Regions from separate parts of the Homo sapiens genome. Here region 1 is linked to region 2. The links come from fine-mapping of genetic effects on gene expression. Tissue or cell type: whole blood. Region 2 holds a variant in brackets; the other region holds the start of a gene. All regions are shown on one strand. Distances are from middle to middle.

Evidence for each region. PIP is the estimated chance that this variant, and not a neighbour inherited with it, causes the effect.
Region 1: it holds the start of MCM3, and the variant in region 2 is fine-mapped to the expression of MCM3 in whole blood (TOPMed, PIP above 0.99).

The regions. Positions count from the first base shown.
Region 1 is chr6:52,281,233-52,289,326 of GRCh38, forward strand. It overlaps MCM3 (minichromosome maintenance complex component 3), which reads right to left and starts at 3,510. Exons shown (of 17, transcript NM_002388.6): 1 at 3,365-3,510; 2 at 2,062-2,174; 3 at 1,421-1,629; 4 at 813-943. The coding sequence starts at 3,442. RefSeq lists enhancers at 3,388-3,467, 3,788-3,987 and a silencer at 6,067-6,136.
Region 2 is chr6:52,329,178-52,337,286 of GRCh38, forward strand. No RefSeq gene overlaps it. Among named protein-coding and RNA genes, the nearest start is that of PAQR8, 29 kb to the right of the region's middle. RefSeq lists an enhancer at 7,940-8,109 and a cis regulatory region at 8,025. The variant A/C (reference allele first, on the strand shown) is at 4,810.

The DNA of each region.
Region 1 (8,094 bases), 48 kb before region 2:
AAAGATTACATAACAGTCTAGCATTATTTTTCTACTTTTTAAAAAGCAGATTCTAAAATTATAACGTTGTTAAAACATCTATGTAGATGACTTCTTCTTTTGACTATTCCTTAATTTTCTAAAATGAACAAGTGTTTTCTTAAAAAAATAATAAGAGTTGTGGCTGGGCATGGTGGTTCATGTCTGTAATCTCAATACTTTGGAAGATGGAAGCAGGAGGATCACTTGAGGCCACGACTTCCAGTCCAGCCTGGGCAACATAGCGAGACCCTGTCTCTAGAAAAAAGTGAAAAAAAAAATTAGCGGACCTGGTGGTGCATGCCTATAATCCCAGGTACTCAGGAGGCTAAGGTGAGAAGATTCGTTGAGTCCAGGAGTTTCAGGCTGCAGTGTTCTATAATGGCACCACTGCACTCCAGCCTGAGAGAGACAGATCCCGTCTCTAAAAAAAAAAATAAGAATTGTGAAGCCAGGTGGCGTAGCACATGCCTGCAATCCCAACTACTTGGGAGGATCACTTGAGCCCCGGAGTTTGCAAATTTAGTGCACCATGACTGCACCTGCAAATACCCACTGCACTCCAACTTAGGCAACATAGGAGAACCTCATCTTTAAAAATAAATAAATAAATAAATAAGAATTGTGGGCTTTTCATATTAAACTCTGGCCTGCAATCAATCTTTCCTTTGGATTAATCCTTATTTTTCACCCTTTACAGAAAAAAGACTTCAGATATTACACAATTCCTTGCCTTAAAACAGGTATCTTTGATTCCAACCTCCAAGACAGCTCAACTGATTTATCCCCCTTACCTTGGTAGGATAGACAGAGCTGGAGGGAAAGGCCACCAGGGTGGTGAGATCAGAATAACGTCGCTCTATGGTCTTCTTAGTAGCAGGACAGTAGTGGACACTGCGGACGACTTTGGGACGAACTAGAGAACCTAGGGATGGAAAATGTGCATATATAAACTCACCCAACTAGACGATGATACAGGTGGAACCCAAACATATGCAAGCCTATAATGACTCCAAATACTGTGTTTTTTTGACTAGGTTACGATATTTCAATATTACCTTTTATTCACTTTTTTATTTATATATAGACCACCACCATATCCATGTAAAATTTTAAGTACCACCAATCCCAACTAATAAATAGGTGGAGTTAGAGGTTGGAATTAGAGATTGCCAGGAACCAAGACTCCTCCAGCTCTCAGCAGAATTCATCATTCTACTAATACATGTGATTACTCAAGGTCCCCCAATCATTGTACACACTGAGCCCTCCAAGTTTTACCACGTAATTCCAATGCTCCACCTCTTTGAAGCCACAAGCTACCCAGATCTACTTTGCCTCTCCTGCTTTCCCCATCTCCCTGTCTATTCATTTCCTAAGCGGCCCCCTTTAACCCACTTACATTTAGTGACAATGCCCTCCACACAGACCACACAGCTGAGGAAGCAGGAGGTAAGAGTCCGCGGGGAGACGTGCTTGGAGCCAAAGCTGCCTTCCAGTCCTACGTAGAACTCCTCATACTGCTTGGCATAGGTAGCATCAATGGAGGCCACAAAATCCTTTAAGGCCCGCTGGAAGGCAACCAGCTCCTCAAAGGCATTGTTCAGAAGCCTGTACATAAGCAAGAGAAAGAAAAATTAGACTGGGCAGAACTCAAAAAAATGGATCCTCAAAACAGCAGACATTCTTAGATCATTAAAAACAATGAGAAAATCCAGCTTCTGCTTTCTCCTATAAGTCTCAGTAAAACACCATCCTATAAGACTCAGTAAAATACCAGAACTAAGGACCAACTTCACCTCAACTTATCAAAGATATAAAAATGATATTCAGCTAAACATTGGAAGGAGGGGCATTTGGGAGGAAAATGCCAACCACCCACTTTTTGAAAAAAAAAAAAAAAAAAATAGGTGCAGGTGAGCTACGAGGGCTTGTAGATCAATCCTGTTTCATACAAGTCCTCTCCTGAGAGGCTGTTCCAATCTGGCCAAGAGGGAAGGGAGCCATTCTCACTGACAGCCAGTATATCCCCTTGCCTCTCACCGGTTAGCCCTCTTCTCGTTTTTCCTGCGCAGGTCATTCACATTGACAATCAGCCGGTATTGGTTGTCACTGATCAGCTCCCGAACTTTGCTCTGATAAATTCCCTGGTCTTCCTGCAAAACAGCCACCACATATCACCATAGCCACAAATTTAAAAACAATGTTTCTAAACAGAAGTAGTTCTCATAGCCAGATAGCTAAGTCAATCTCTGCAGCAGAGCTGAATCCCCAGTAAGTATGTGCTCATCAATTTCTCCCTTTCATTCACTGTTTTTAGATTCGAAATAACACCCTAAGAGGGGACTATAAGAATTATAATGACTTCCTCAAGGTCCATGCTGTTATTCCCATCATCATGGACAACTTTTCTGCATGCTGTAATTTCTGTCTTTAGTGGAGAATTAAAATGAGCTCATGAGAAGTCTAAATGGACAGTAAGTGCAAACTTTGTTAAAATGTTAAGTTAAACCTAGCAATGTGAATGTTAAAGGTAACAACGTGAATAGATGGATATGTTGTTTCACTGTAGTAATCATTTCACCATGTATATCAAAACATGTGCACTTCAAATATATACAATAAAAATGTAAATAAAACAGACTCTTAATAGTCACATTAAAATGGCTTTTCATTTAAGAATTATGTAAAAAGTAATATTTTTTCCAATCATCTCTATAATACGGAAAGGGTTCTCATACCCCGACCTAAAGGAATAGAGAATCTCAGCTATTTGGTCACATCATCAACCCTTCAAGATGGTTTTTTCAACATTCTATGGCTTTAAGTCTTGGGTTGCACATAAAATCCCCTTGGCCTGCACACAAAACACTTTTTATCTGCATCTTAGTTGGTATTGAAAAAGAATGCAGCCGAATTATGGAGTCTTTTCCTCCAGGTAAAACGTCAGTCCCTAAAATCTGAGCACTCTGCAACGCGGCTGGTCACTATAGCCCTAGGGCAGCCCCTCCCCCACAGTCTCCTCAAATCAAGAGAGAGCAGTGAAATGCAAAAGGCCGAGGTGGGCTTTGCCAATCTGCTTGCACTTAATGGGAACCTGTCGCCTTTTGCGCGCCCGGACCATCGCTTGTACTTAAGAGAAAGCTGGCTTCCTAAGAGTTCACTTATCGAACACAAACTAGCGAGTCCGGCGTTGAGAAGTTACAAGATTGGGGCTGGAGGCTCGGGCCCGGCAGGCTCCGCTGCGGCACACGGTCTGGAGGTCTGGCGGGCCTCTGGCTTCCCGGCCGGGCCGCGTCCGCAGGGGCTCCGAGCGCTAGAGCCCGCGCGCCGGCGCCTCCCTCACCTCGTCGTCCAGGAAGTCCAGGTAATCTCTCTGAGCCTCCCGCAGCTCCACATCGTCCAGCACCACGGTACCCGCCATGCCCGCTGCCAAAGAACTACCTCCACCAAAGTCGCGTGGAGGTTCCCAGGATGACTCCACCCCGGCGCGAAAACTTCCGAACTCTTCCCGCCACCAAAGGTTACCTCGAGGAAGAGGCGGGGACCTTGGGAGCATATAAGCATTATGATTGGCTGAGTTCTCTGAGGTCGGACTAGCGACTGTCCAATCAAAAGCTTCTTCTTCTTCGGGTTTTCCGCTGCGCGCCCCGCGGTGGCGGGAAACGTACCATCCGGGATTCTCTGTTCCTCCCCTCCCTCCGCCTCACTCACTGACGAGCAAACTGACCAATAGGGCTGAGAGGAGGCTCACAGAGGCTGGTCATTGAGCAGCTGGAGGGGACAGGCTGGCGAGAGGGAAAGCATTGCGTTCTGGGAGTTGTAGTGTTCTCCCTCCTTTCCGGATGTTTTTGCAGGGTTTTTCAAGCTGCAGAACTTTTGACCCGATGCAACGACCAAATTCAGAGGATGGTGCTTTATAACGCAGGGAGATGAAAACATAAAAGCAAATCATTTTTAAGATATATCCAAATCAGAACTGCCCTCCAGTGGCATCCTAGTGTAAAAGTGGATTTTGAGAATCTATAGGATAGAATATAGAACTACAGTACCTTAGGGAAAGATTAGTTAAAAACCCATTTGCTATCTGATACCGTTGCCTGACGAACTCCATAAAGACATCGCCGCAGAGAAGGATGAAGTGAAAAAAAAAATCTGTGTTTACCCTGCCCCCTAGAGACTTCATCGTGTGTTATACAAATTTTGGAAACCGTTACTACTCCATCTTACTTAATAACAGGTAAATTAAAGGCTTTCTGGTCTTATAAAAAGATCACAAGATCCTTTTAAGTAACTTAGCTTACTGAACGATCAGCTCAAGAGGGGAAAAAGTGTTTCACGTCACTTTGATTAAATATCAATCAGTAACTAACAGCAAATCTGAAACCATAATGACTAAAAGATCATCGCACGTCCAAATTTGTATGTTTGTTTTCAGTCCGTCGTGGTTGGCTTTTTCTTATATTTCTAGTTTTATTTTGAGATATAATGTATATACAGTAAAATGCACAAATCTTAAGTGTACAGCTCAGTGAATTTTTACCTGTGCTTACACCCATGTAACCACTCTGCACAATAAAGAGCAAGCCCATTGCCCCAGCATGTGTTTTTAATTTTACTGAACAAGAAGCTGAAATACTGGATTGCCCAACATCAGACATTTGATAATTCTTTATCTGAAATTTCAGCCAACTATTAGCTTATGTTTTAAAGTCTTCAGGACTCACTATGTACTGATAAATATTCTAAGAATAATCTGCCTAAACAAAATATATAGGCCATCTATTTGTGTGGGTATATGTATTTCTAGTTATTATTCAGTTTATAGTTACTGTATGTTTTGTGCCATCCTAGTGGGCAGATAAATCGATCCTTAGCCAAAGCAAAAAGGCTGTCATTTGACTGCTTGCTTTTATGTTTATTAACGGGCAAAAAAAAAAGAAAATTCTAGAATAAAGATACTGTTTGCCGTTATATAGCAAGAGGTAATTACTGATTTATTAAGACTTTTTACTCATAACTCTTATTTTATGAACTTATTGGACAGAGTACTGAGATATCCTCTGCTCTGGAAACAATTTGAAATTAACACTAAAAGAACCGGGAAGCTTAGTTCAAACTAGCAAAGAAGTCGAGTCATTTGTAGTAGAAAGTCCAAAAGAGTGGAAATCTGAAAACCACATCTTTGATTCTCACACTTTTTTCTGGGCTTGTTTCCTTATATACAGTATAAGATGAAGAAACTGAATTAGAATATCTCTGATAATCTGTCTTACTCTAACATTCCATGAGCTAATGGCAAATTTGGAAACTATGTAAAGACAATTCTATTTAATGAATTAATCATGCCATGGTCTTTGATAAAGACTTGATTTGTCCCAATATAATCATCTTCAGCTGTGAAGGACACACCGCTATTTAATTGGTGTTTCTCCCTTCTTTCATTAGGGCATGAAATCTTTAAGCAGAGGAAATGTATTTCCTTTGTTATCCCCGACACCTGCAAACTGCCCAAAATCAATCAGGTTGTTGCTACAGAAAAATTAGGGGCATTTGTACATATCTCATAAAAAGTCCAGCTGAGCTTAGCCCGTAGTCCTCCTCTATCCTGATTCAAAATTAAAAAGCACATATAATCTAATAAAGTAGTGTATCTACAGTTTCCATACTTGGGTCACATTCCTGCTTTCCTCCATTTCAATTTTCTTTCCACCCTAGACTTTAATGGACTCAAGCCCATCTCCAAGGCTGCCTAAACGCTAGGGGGCTCCCTGGAGAGCAGAGTATACAGGAAGAGAATGGAAAGAAAACAAGATTGCAAAGAGATTGCAAAATAGATGTAATACTGCCATTTTTCTATGTCCTCAGGGTCCAAAAAATACCCAAAGACACAATACAAATCCATAATAAATATTATTACAAGAAATTATATATACCTTTGTTCAAACTAATGAACATTATATGTTGCAAAACATTTCAAATAATACCCTGTAATTAATAACTTGTTTAGGCACTCAGGAAAGTGCCATAATTCATTAGCAGTCCTTTGACATTTACTCAAAGGCCACCAAAGCTTGGAGGTGAGCAAATCTATGCCTCCAGGTGTCACAGCAGCTCAAGGAATAATCTGTAGGCACAGGCTTGCCCTAACCTCACAGTTCTGCAGTGTGAAGTCAGAATCTTCAGATGCTGTAGCATCTAGAGTTTCAAGCACCAAGACAGGCAGATTTGGTTACTCTTTCTGGCTGCTCTGTATATTACCTGCACGACTAGGCAACTTACTTAACCACTCTGTGCCTCAGTTTCTTCACCTTTCAAATTAGGTTAGTAGTATCTAACTCAAATGTTTAAGTATCCAGTGAAGTCATAACAGATGTAAACTACTGAAAAAAGTGCCTGGTATGTAGTAAGCATTAAATAAATGTTAACCATTGGTAGTGGTGGTGAATGGTAGTTGGAGAGGAGTCAAGGGATAGGAGAAGGGGAGGAAGCACTGTAGTGCATTCTGAAACAATTCAGACAACCAAATTCAAACCCCCTTCCCACTTCCACCAAAAAACTTACAATACAACCAACCCAGACACTTCCTTGAGTGGGACCTTTTTCTGCTGGAAGTCCAATTGGCTAAAAAAAATAACATAGGCAGGGTGTTGTTTGGCTCGGATTCCGACAGTGTTGGAAGCCATCAGATGCATTTACTCCATGCTCAAAGAACATTATGGAATACTAAATGGACTCCTTTATAAAACTCTTTTAAAAGAGTCTGGTCAGCCGGCACAGTGGCTCACACCAGTAATCCTAGCAATTTGTGAGGCCGAGGCAAGTGGATCACCTGAGGTCAGGAGTTCAAGACCAGCCTGGCCAACATAGTGAAACCCCGTCTCTACCAAAAATACAAAAAAATTAGCTAGGCATGGTGGCCGGCACCTATAATCCCAGCTACTTGGAAGACTGAGGCAGGATAATCGCTTGAACCCAGGAGGCGGAGGTTGCAATAAGCCAAGATCACGCCATTGCACTCCAGCCTGGGTGACAAAAGTGAAACTCTGTCTCAAAAAATAAATAAATAAACGAGTCTGATCACCTTTCTTGTCTCCCTTTTGCACTCTTCTGTTGCTTCCTGGAGTCCTTCCGGTTAGATATGCTAAAAAGAGCCGGAAAATCCAGGAGCCAGACAGAGAACATCAGTGATCATGATTTTCCCATTAAATATAACAACACAGTTGGCTTGCCAACAATTAGTGATTCATTGGTATTTGCCAAGGTTAATTTCAGTAATCTGATTTCTTAGTCCGTAAGAAGTCATCCCCATTCTTTTTCTTTCTGAGAGATAGGTTCACTATGCTGCCCAGAATGGTCTTAAACTCCTGGCCTCAAGTGATCCTACCACCTTGGCGTGAGCCACCATGCCCAGCCCCCATTCTTTTTTTTTTTTTTTTGACGAAGTCTCGCTCTGTCGCCCAGACTGGAGTGCAGTGTGCAATCTCGGCTCACTGCCACCTCTACCTCTCGGGTTCAAGCAATTCTCCTGCCTCAGCCTCCCGAGTAGCTGGGATTACAGGCAGGCGCCACCATGCCCAGCTAATTTTTGTATTTTTAGCAGAGACTGGGTTTCACCATGTTGGTCAGGCTTGAACTCCTGACCTCATGATCCACCCACCTCGGCCTCTCAAAGTGCTGGAATTACAGGTGTGAGCCACTGCACCCGGCTGAGCCCCCATTCTTAATTGTACAAGTCTTTACTGATGCTCTGAAGAGCTTTGCTTCAATGCTTAGAACCACAGATTTGCAGAAGGAAATGATTAAACACAAATTGAGTGAATATGAATATAGCATATGAAATGCTCTGATAATAACTCCATTCTGTAAATCTGTCTAGATTTGTTGTAAGCATGCATTTTTAAAGATACAGTCCCTTAATGTAATAAAATGATGTACATTGGCATGGTAGGGGAAAAAAGAAATAAATGTTTTTAAAAATGATGAAGAGCTTTAGCCATACCAAACAATCAAATATTAGTTAAGCATCTGTAATCTGTATACCTAATTCTGTCCTGGAACAAAGACTTTTAGATC
Region 2 (8,109 bases):
TTCCTTTCTTTTCTTTTTTCTTTTCTCTTTTTTTTTTTTTGAGACAGAGTTTCGCTCTGTTGCCCAGGCTAGAGTGCAGTGGCGCTATCTCGGCTCACGGCAACCTCTGCCTCCTGGGTTCAAGTGATTCTTCTGCCTCAGCCTCCCAAGTAGCTGGGCATACAGGCATGTGCCACCATGCCTGGCTAATTTTGTATTTTTAGTAGAGATGGGGTTTCTCCGTGTTGGTCAGGCTGGTCGTGAACTCCTGACCTCAGGTGATCTACCTGCCTCGGCCTCCCATAGTGCTGGCATTACAGGTGTGAGCCACCGCACCAGGCCCCACTCCTCCTTTCAAAGAAGCCTTGCTGACCTGCCCTATAAAGGAGAACACATGAATGTGAGGTGCAGGCTTACACAAATACATAAATATAATTTTGCATATCATTTCAGGGAGTTCATGGACCACTGGATAAGCTCCAGTTAAAGACCACTTATTTAGTCTTCTTGCCTAACAAGCTCTCAGTTCCTGAAATTCTGATGCCAAGATTTTATTTATTTTTATTTTTTGAGACAGAATCTCGCTCTGTCTCCCAGGCTGGAGTGCGATGGCGCGATCTCAGCTCACTGCAACCTCCGCCTCCCAGGTTCAAGTGATCCTCCCGCCTCAGCCTCCCAAATAGCTGGGATTACAAGCGTGCACCACCACTCCTGGCTAATTTTTGTATTTTTTAGTAGAGACAGGATTTCACCATGTTGGCCAGGCTGGTCTCAAACTCCTGACCTCAGTGATCCGCCCACTTTGGCCTCCCAAAGTGCTAGGATAACAGGCCTGAGTGACTGTACCTGATCTTTGATGCCAAATTTTAGCTAACCTAATACACACTTAGATGCCTGCAATAAGATGCAAAATCATTTTTTTTTCTGTATTGGCAAGTGAATAGTCTTTATAAATTGCATAAAGCATGTGTAGATTGTGTACTAGAGAAGCCAACATTTTTATTCATTCATTTGTTCATTTGTTGATTACTCATTCATTTTACAAATATTTGTTTAGGCATTACTATTTTGGAGTAATACATTTATGTAAAATCAACCTCCAACTTTAAAAATCAGACCAGTTAATGGGAAGAACCAATATGTAAATAGACAGTTAACAATAGTGTGCTATGGCTGAGGGTGCTGAGGGAGCCTTGGAGAAAGTGAAGGGTGAGGGGAGGGTGGCGTGGAGAGGGCACCTAATTCAGCCTGGGAGTTGGGTATGGGCTGAGAGTGATTTCAGGCGGAGCTTCTGGGAGAAGGTGACACATAAACTGTATCTTGGGGGAGTTCTTAGAGTTCTCAGAAGGCAAGAGTGGGAGAAAGATAATCTCTCTAGATGGATCAATACTTTCAAAGAGCCAGAGTCAGAAAAGAGCATGGTGCATTGGAAAACTTGTCATTGGTTTGCTTCGGCTGGAATGGAGTGTGGATATGGAGACATGGCAGGAGCTGGAGCAAGGGCCACTTCACACAGGGTGTGAAATGCTAGTTGGAGGAACTTACTCTTTATCTCAATGGGGTGTGGAGCCTCTGAAAGCTATTTAGCAAGGCATGATGTAATCAGATTTGCATGCAGAATGGCAAGGTACAGTGGTAATCACACCCATACATGGGGATTGTTTCTATATACGTTGTATTTAAAACTGGAAAATAATAAAGAATTAAAATTGTGAATGACTTGCTTTACATAAATTAAAATAGGTACCAGGCTATGCCTTTAATAACAGCACTCTCAGCTACCTGTTTTTTGCTTTTTTTTTTTTTGAGACGGAGTTTCGCCCTTGTTGCCCAGGCTGGAGTGCAATGGTGTGATCTCAGCTCACCACAACCTCTGCCTCCCGGGTTCAAGAGATTCTCCTGCCTCAGCCTCCTGAGTAGCTGGGATTACAGGCATGTGCCACCATGCCCGGCTAATTTTTTGTATTTTTAGTAGAGACGGGGTTTCTCCATGTTGGTCAGGCTGATCTCAAACTCCCCACCTCACGTGATCCACCTGCCTCGGCCTCCCAAAATGCTGGGATTACAGGCATGAGCCACCATGCCCGTCCTGCTACTTGCTTTTAAATATTATTTTGAATGGTGTTAATGCCAGAGCTGAGGAAATAGCACATATAACTCACATTCCAGCTTGTCTTTGTCCTAGCTCTTAGAGAAGAACGCTATATAACCTCTAATACCAATGGAGATTTAAGTATTGTAGTGCTTCTTTATAACTTTATATTTATTTCCAATTTATCTTTATGTTTTCCAATAATTACATTTTTAGTTTAAAAAAGAGAAAAAATAGAAAGGAAGAAAACATTCATAGGACAGGTATATCATTAAGTGAATATTTTACTTACTCACATGTTTATAAAATGTTTTTATGAATATAATACCCCTTCCCTGAGTAGTCTGTGGTCTATGCTTTACTTTCCAGCTAAATTTTAGGAAACTGCATCAGAATTTAAGTCAAGGGAGTGAGTAATGCATGGTGAATATTATCTGTTATTGGTATATTGCAACAGGAAAAAAAAATAAAACCTAACTGACTGAGTGACTCAATGTCTATTTCAATCTCCTTTGAGTATGCCTTCCCATACTGCAGAATTGGGAAGCCAAAAACTACATTTTCCAAATTCCCCAGGTAGAGTTTCTAAGGATGTGACTTAGGTTGTGACAATTAGACACACTGACATAAGACTCCAAATTCAGAGTTGAATGAGTTGTTGGGGCACAAGGCGGGCAGGGCAGGAAGCATCTATTCTGCTTGTGCGGAGCACAGCAACCCTAGGTTGTGAGTTTGCTAGCTCAGCTGACACTCCCTAACTGTGGCAGAAGCAGCAACTCCCCTGGCAACTCAGTTCTGAGTGTGACTTTGTTCCTAGTAATTCAGCCTCAAATCCACTTCTTCAGCTCTCCCACTGATTCTGTAAGCCAATTAATACCTTGCAATAATCTTTTTGGCTTAAACTAGCTAGGGAAGGCTATGCTTTCTGCACCTGAACCATGACCAATGTAGTCAGCGAAACCTGAGCCTTTGAGAAAAAGCTGAGGAGAAGCCAGAAAAGTAGCAGTAAAACCAGGACAGGCTGCTACCCTACAATCAAGACAGAAGAGAGTTTCAATAAGCAATGAAACACTGCAGAGAGGCCAAGACAGACACAAATATGAAGTAAAAACGATTCAGCCAGGAGGTCAAAGATGATGTGGAGAGGAGCCATTTCATGGAGTGGCAGGGGAGGAAGCCATATTGCAGGTGGTTGAGGAGAGTCTTCCATTTTATTTGGACTTAATTTTTTTGAGACAGGTCTCGCTCTGTGGCCCAGGCTGGAGTGCAGTGGCGTGATCTCGGTTCATTGCAACCTCCACCTCCCGGGTTCAAGCAATTCTCTGCCTCAGCCTCCTGAGTAGTTGGGATTACAGGCACACACCACCACGCCCGGCTAATTTTTGTATGTTTAGTAGAGATGGTGTTTCACCATGTTGGCCAGGCTGGTCTTGATCTCCTGACCTTGTGATCGATCCGCCTTAGCCTCCCAAAGTGCTGGGATTACAGGAGTGAGCCACCACGCCCCACGTGGACTCAATTTATGAAGTAAGAGTCAGGTGCTGACTACATGATGTGAGAGGTACAGGAAGGTTTTTACATTTCCTATTACTGTGCCTAGAAGCCTACATGGTGGCCCAATCAGGAGGTAGGAATTTTTCTTCTGTCGTCATCTATTAAAGGGGCTCTAGCCCCAACTCTGCCACTGGGAGTTCTGTGAAATAGTTCTCTGAAATTCCATTTTAAAAGAGAAAAAGTTCTTTAGAAAATGGGCATATGGCTAGGTGCAGCTGCTCACACCTGCAATTCCGGCACGTTGGGAGGCCAAGGTGGGAGAATTGCTTGAGCCCAGGAGTTTAAGACCAGCCTGGGCAACATAGCAAGACGCTATCTCTAAAAAAAAATACAAAAATTAGCCGGGTATGGTGATGTATACCTGTAGTCCCCACTACTCAGAAGGCTGAGGTGGGAGGATTGCTTGAGCTAAAGAGGTCGAGGCTGCAGTGAGCTAGGATTGAGCCACTGCACTCCAGCCTGGGCAATGGAGTGACACCCCGTCTCAAGAAAGAAAGAAAGAAAGAGAGAAAGAGAGAAAGAGAGAAAGAGAGAAAGAGAGAAAGAGAGAAAGAGAGAGAGAGAGAGAGAGAGAGAGAGAGAAGGAAGGAAGGAAGGAAGGAAGGAAGGAAGGAAGGAAGGAAGGAAGGAGAGAGAGAGAGAGAGAGAAAGAAGGAAGGAAGGAAGGAAGGAAGGAAGGAGAAAGAAAGAAAGAAAAAGAAAGAAAGAAAGAAAGAAAGAAAGAAAGAAAGAAAGAAAGAAAGAAAGAAAGAAAAGACAAAGAAAACAGGCATACTAATACCTGTCCTGCCTTCTGCACAGGCAGAATGGTGAAAGAGATAAGAGCACAGGATTTGGACTTGGTCAGACCCAGGCTTTAATCCTGATTTTGCCGCTAGTTAGCTGTGTGACCTTGGGCAAGTTATGTATACCTAGCTTTCTCCTCTGGAAATTAGGGATAAGAGTATCAGCTTCACAGTGATTATGACGATTAGTTGAGGTATGTAAGGCATTCAGCACAGTGACTGGCAGGTAGCAAGCTCTCAGAAGATGACAGTTAATTTCATAAGTGGTCCAAAATACCTTTTGGGAGATAATGCTCACGAGTGTTTTATTCACAGGGTTGCTGGCCAAATGAGAAAATGCACAGGAAAGCAAAATGTAACAGGCCTATCAGGATGAAAACACTGTGAGAAAGGTCACAC[A/C]TTAAACCACAAATGTTTTGGGTTCCTTGACAACTAGATTGTGCTACAGAGTTGGTAGGGTAGGGAGGAAGAGGAGAAGCTGAACTTCAACTGCTGCAGTTTTTCCTGGGGCTGGCCCTTGTTAGAATAATAGACACTCTACCATAGAGAGGCAGTTGATTCACCTATACCTGTTGGATAAAAAAGAAAACCATGTGGCTGGTGGAGCTGAGAAAGTGGAAAGAATAAAGGGAGCAGAAGATATATTGCTTGAAATCAGGCAAAAGTTCCATATATCAAAAGCCTCATTCTGGCTGACTTCATCACCAAACTCCCCTCCCAGAGGCCTCTGCCTGGGCTTTTGCAGAAAACATGTACAAACTCTATGCAAAGTAAGAATCCAAAATAGCTTATTTAGAAATAAACCACCTGCTTGTACAAACAGGAAGATCTGAAATCCCTGGAGTTGGGCAAGTGAGTTCCTTGCTTCCCTGCCTAGCCCAGCCTCCTACTGGACCCCCACTACCACAAAGGGATGGAATTACACTCCTTTCTCTCCAGCCTCTTTGCTTTGCTTTTTCCTTTTATTTTTAGTTGTCATGTAATAATTGTACAAATTGATGGGATATGGAGTGCTATTTCTTTTTCTTTTTTTTTTTGAGATGGAGTCTCGCTCTTTCACCCAGGCTGGAGTGCAGTGGTGCAATCTCAGCTCACTGCAACCTCCGCCTCCCGGGTTCAAGCGATTCTCCTGCCTCAGCCTCCTGAGTAGCTGTGACTACAGGCACGCATCACCATGCCCAGCTAATTTTTTGTATTTTTAGTAGAGACGGGGTTTCACAATGTTAGCCAGGTTGGTCTCAATCTCCTGACCTTGTGATCAGCCTGCCTCAGCCTCCCAAAGTGCTGGGATTACAGGCGTGAGCCACCGCACCCAGCTGGAGTGCTATTTTAATACATGCATACAATGAGTAATGATCAAATCAGGGTAATTAGCATATCATCACTTCAAACACTTACCATTTCTTTGTGTTGTGAACATTCAAAATCATCTTGTAGCTTTTTGAGAATATACAATAAATTATAATTAACCACATTCGCAAAGCACCAGAACTCTCACCCTCCTCCCCTCCCTCACCCACCCTTCCCAGCCTCTAATACTCACAATTCTACTCTCTACTTCCATGGGCTCAAAAAATTTATTTTATCTCCCACATGAGTGAGATCATGCGGTATTTGTCTTTCAGTGCTTGGTGTATTTCACTTAACATAAAGTCCTCCAGGCTCATCTATGCCATGAATGACAGGATTTTCTTCTTTTTTATTCCAACCCCTTTTCTTTGTTCCTTCTCATGGGAACACATCAATAAAGGCACCTACTGGTGGCCAAAGGGGGCTCTCTGATGCCACCACCCCATTCCCTATCCTACCCTTTATCCCATCCTTTATTCCTGTCAGAGACTAAACAGAGACAGGGGAATGAGTTTTCACTGTGGATTACTTAATTTTTTTAGGTCACAGTGTTCTAATCAGTAATCATCCATCTTTCTGTTACCTCATTCTGTGAGGCGAAGAATTTAAAGCCTGCTTGAATTCAAGGTCAGGCTGCCTTCTGCAGCTGGAGGCATCCCCAGCAGGCCAAGGCTTCACTCTCTCAGCTGGTGTCAGGGACCCTTAGGGAGTGGACAGAATAGCATGTGGAAAGAGGCAGTGTGACCAGCCTTGCCACCTGTTTCACAGGTGGCACTGCTGGCTGAGTCAGTCTGCTAAGGAGGACAGCCCTGGAACTGGTCAGAGAAGGCTTAGTAAATCTCTTCTGATTGCTAACCTCTGAGACCTCACAGCCTATAATTTCCCAAGACAGACCTGTTATTACAAACAGTCAACCTAGTAATCACTGCCCAAGCCCAGGTGTCCTGAAGAAGTAGGGTGGAAGCTTGCATTGAAAAAGGAAAATGATAAGGAGATATTTGCCCAGCAAAGATATTCTGTAGAACAGATAACATGGGCACATTGTACTGCCTTCCTCCATCTTCCCACAGCACCTACCAAAGTCCTGGCAAGCCATCAAATTAGGCTTATAGGTAGCTGCCCTTTCTGAAGGCTACATTCAAATTTTTCTAAAAGATAATTTGATTTCATTCAGTTCAACCCAGTGAGTTTATACATTTATTTTAGCATCTATTCTATGCTTGGTACTGTGAGGATGAGCCATGAATTAAAACATCAGGTCAGCGTATACTCGACACAGTTGTAGAAATGAGAACCTTTACTTTTTCACAGTGAAGACCGAGGAAGCTGAAAAGAATGCTTTTGGTTTTCTTCCCTCTACCCCAGACTCTCCCAAGGCCATACTTTTCTCTCTCTCTCTCACTCTGGGGGAAGAAATATTGAAATTTTTTATCTAAGGCTTTTTCCTAGAATTTGAACTGCATAGGGAACATTGCTTCATCATCAACATTTTCTTTCATTTTCAACCTCTTTCCACCTGCCCTAAAAACATGTTTGAATCTAACCCACCCCTACTGTTCTTTCTCTACCTTCATTTCTTCCTGGGATACAGTTTTTCATCTTTTGCTCATGCAATTAATTATTCATTCATTAATTTAACAAATATTTAGTGATGAACAGTATGAGTAAGGCCCTTTCCTACGCTGGAGACAAAAATGAATAAAGCCTTGTTCCTTTAATGAAGCAGTCCCTAACCTTTTTTGACACCAGGAACTGTGTGGCCTAAGTGAGTTACATATTCCCTCTGAGACTCAGTTTACCCTAAGATTCTGTTAACTGGGAATAACTATGTATTTGAGAGTTATTGTGAGGGTTAAATGATATATCGTGTGAAAAGCTCCTGTCACATGGTCAGTGCTAAACAAATATTAGTCACCTTTCCTTGCATGACACTATACATTCTTAGCTCTTTGCCCATTTCTCAGACTGCTTAACCTAGAATTTCTTTGCTGGATCTGTGTTATCCCTATCCCCCTGAATTGTAGGCATTACTTAATAGAAATTTGTTTTTGAGGGTTACCCAGGATCCCCTCACCAAAATTCCAGGGAAAGTTCAGGACTGTAGTTTGGAGACCCCGCCCCTTCCCACTTCCAGCACCATCCCTCATCCCCAGCCTGAGTGGTCTTGGGACAGCAGAAATGGGGGTGACATGTGACCCAGGTTTGGCCAATCAGAGCCTTGCATTCTCCTGAAAGAACAACGATTGGTTCAATGATGGGCACGACACTCCTCTAGACTTCTTTGCTTATATGAGCCGCGAATTCCTCTTTTTGCTTAAGCTCTTTGGATTGGGCTTTCTGACACTTAGA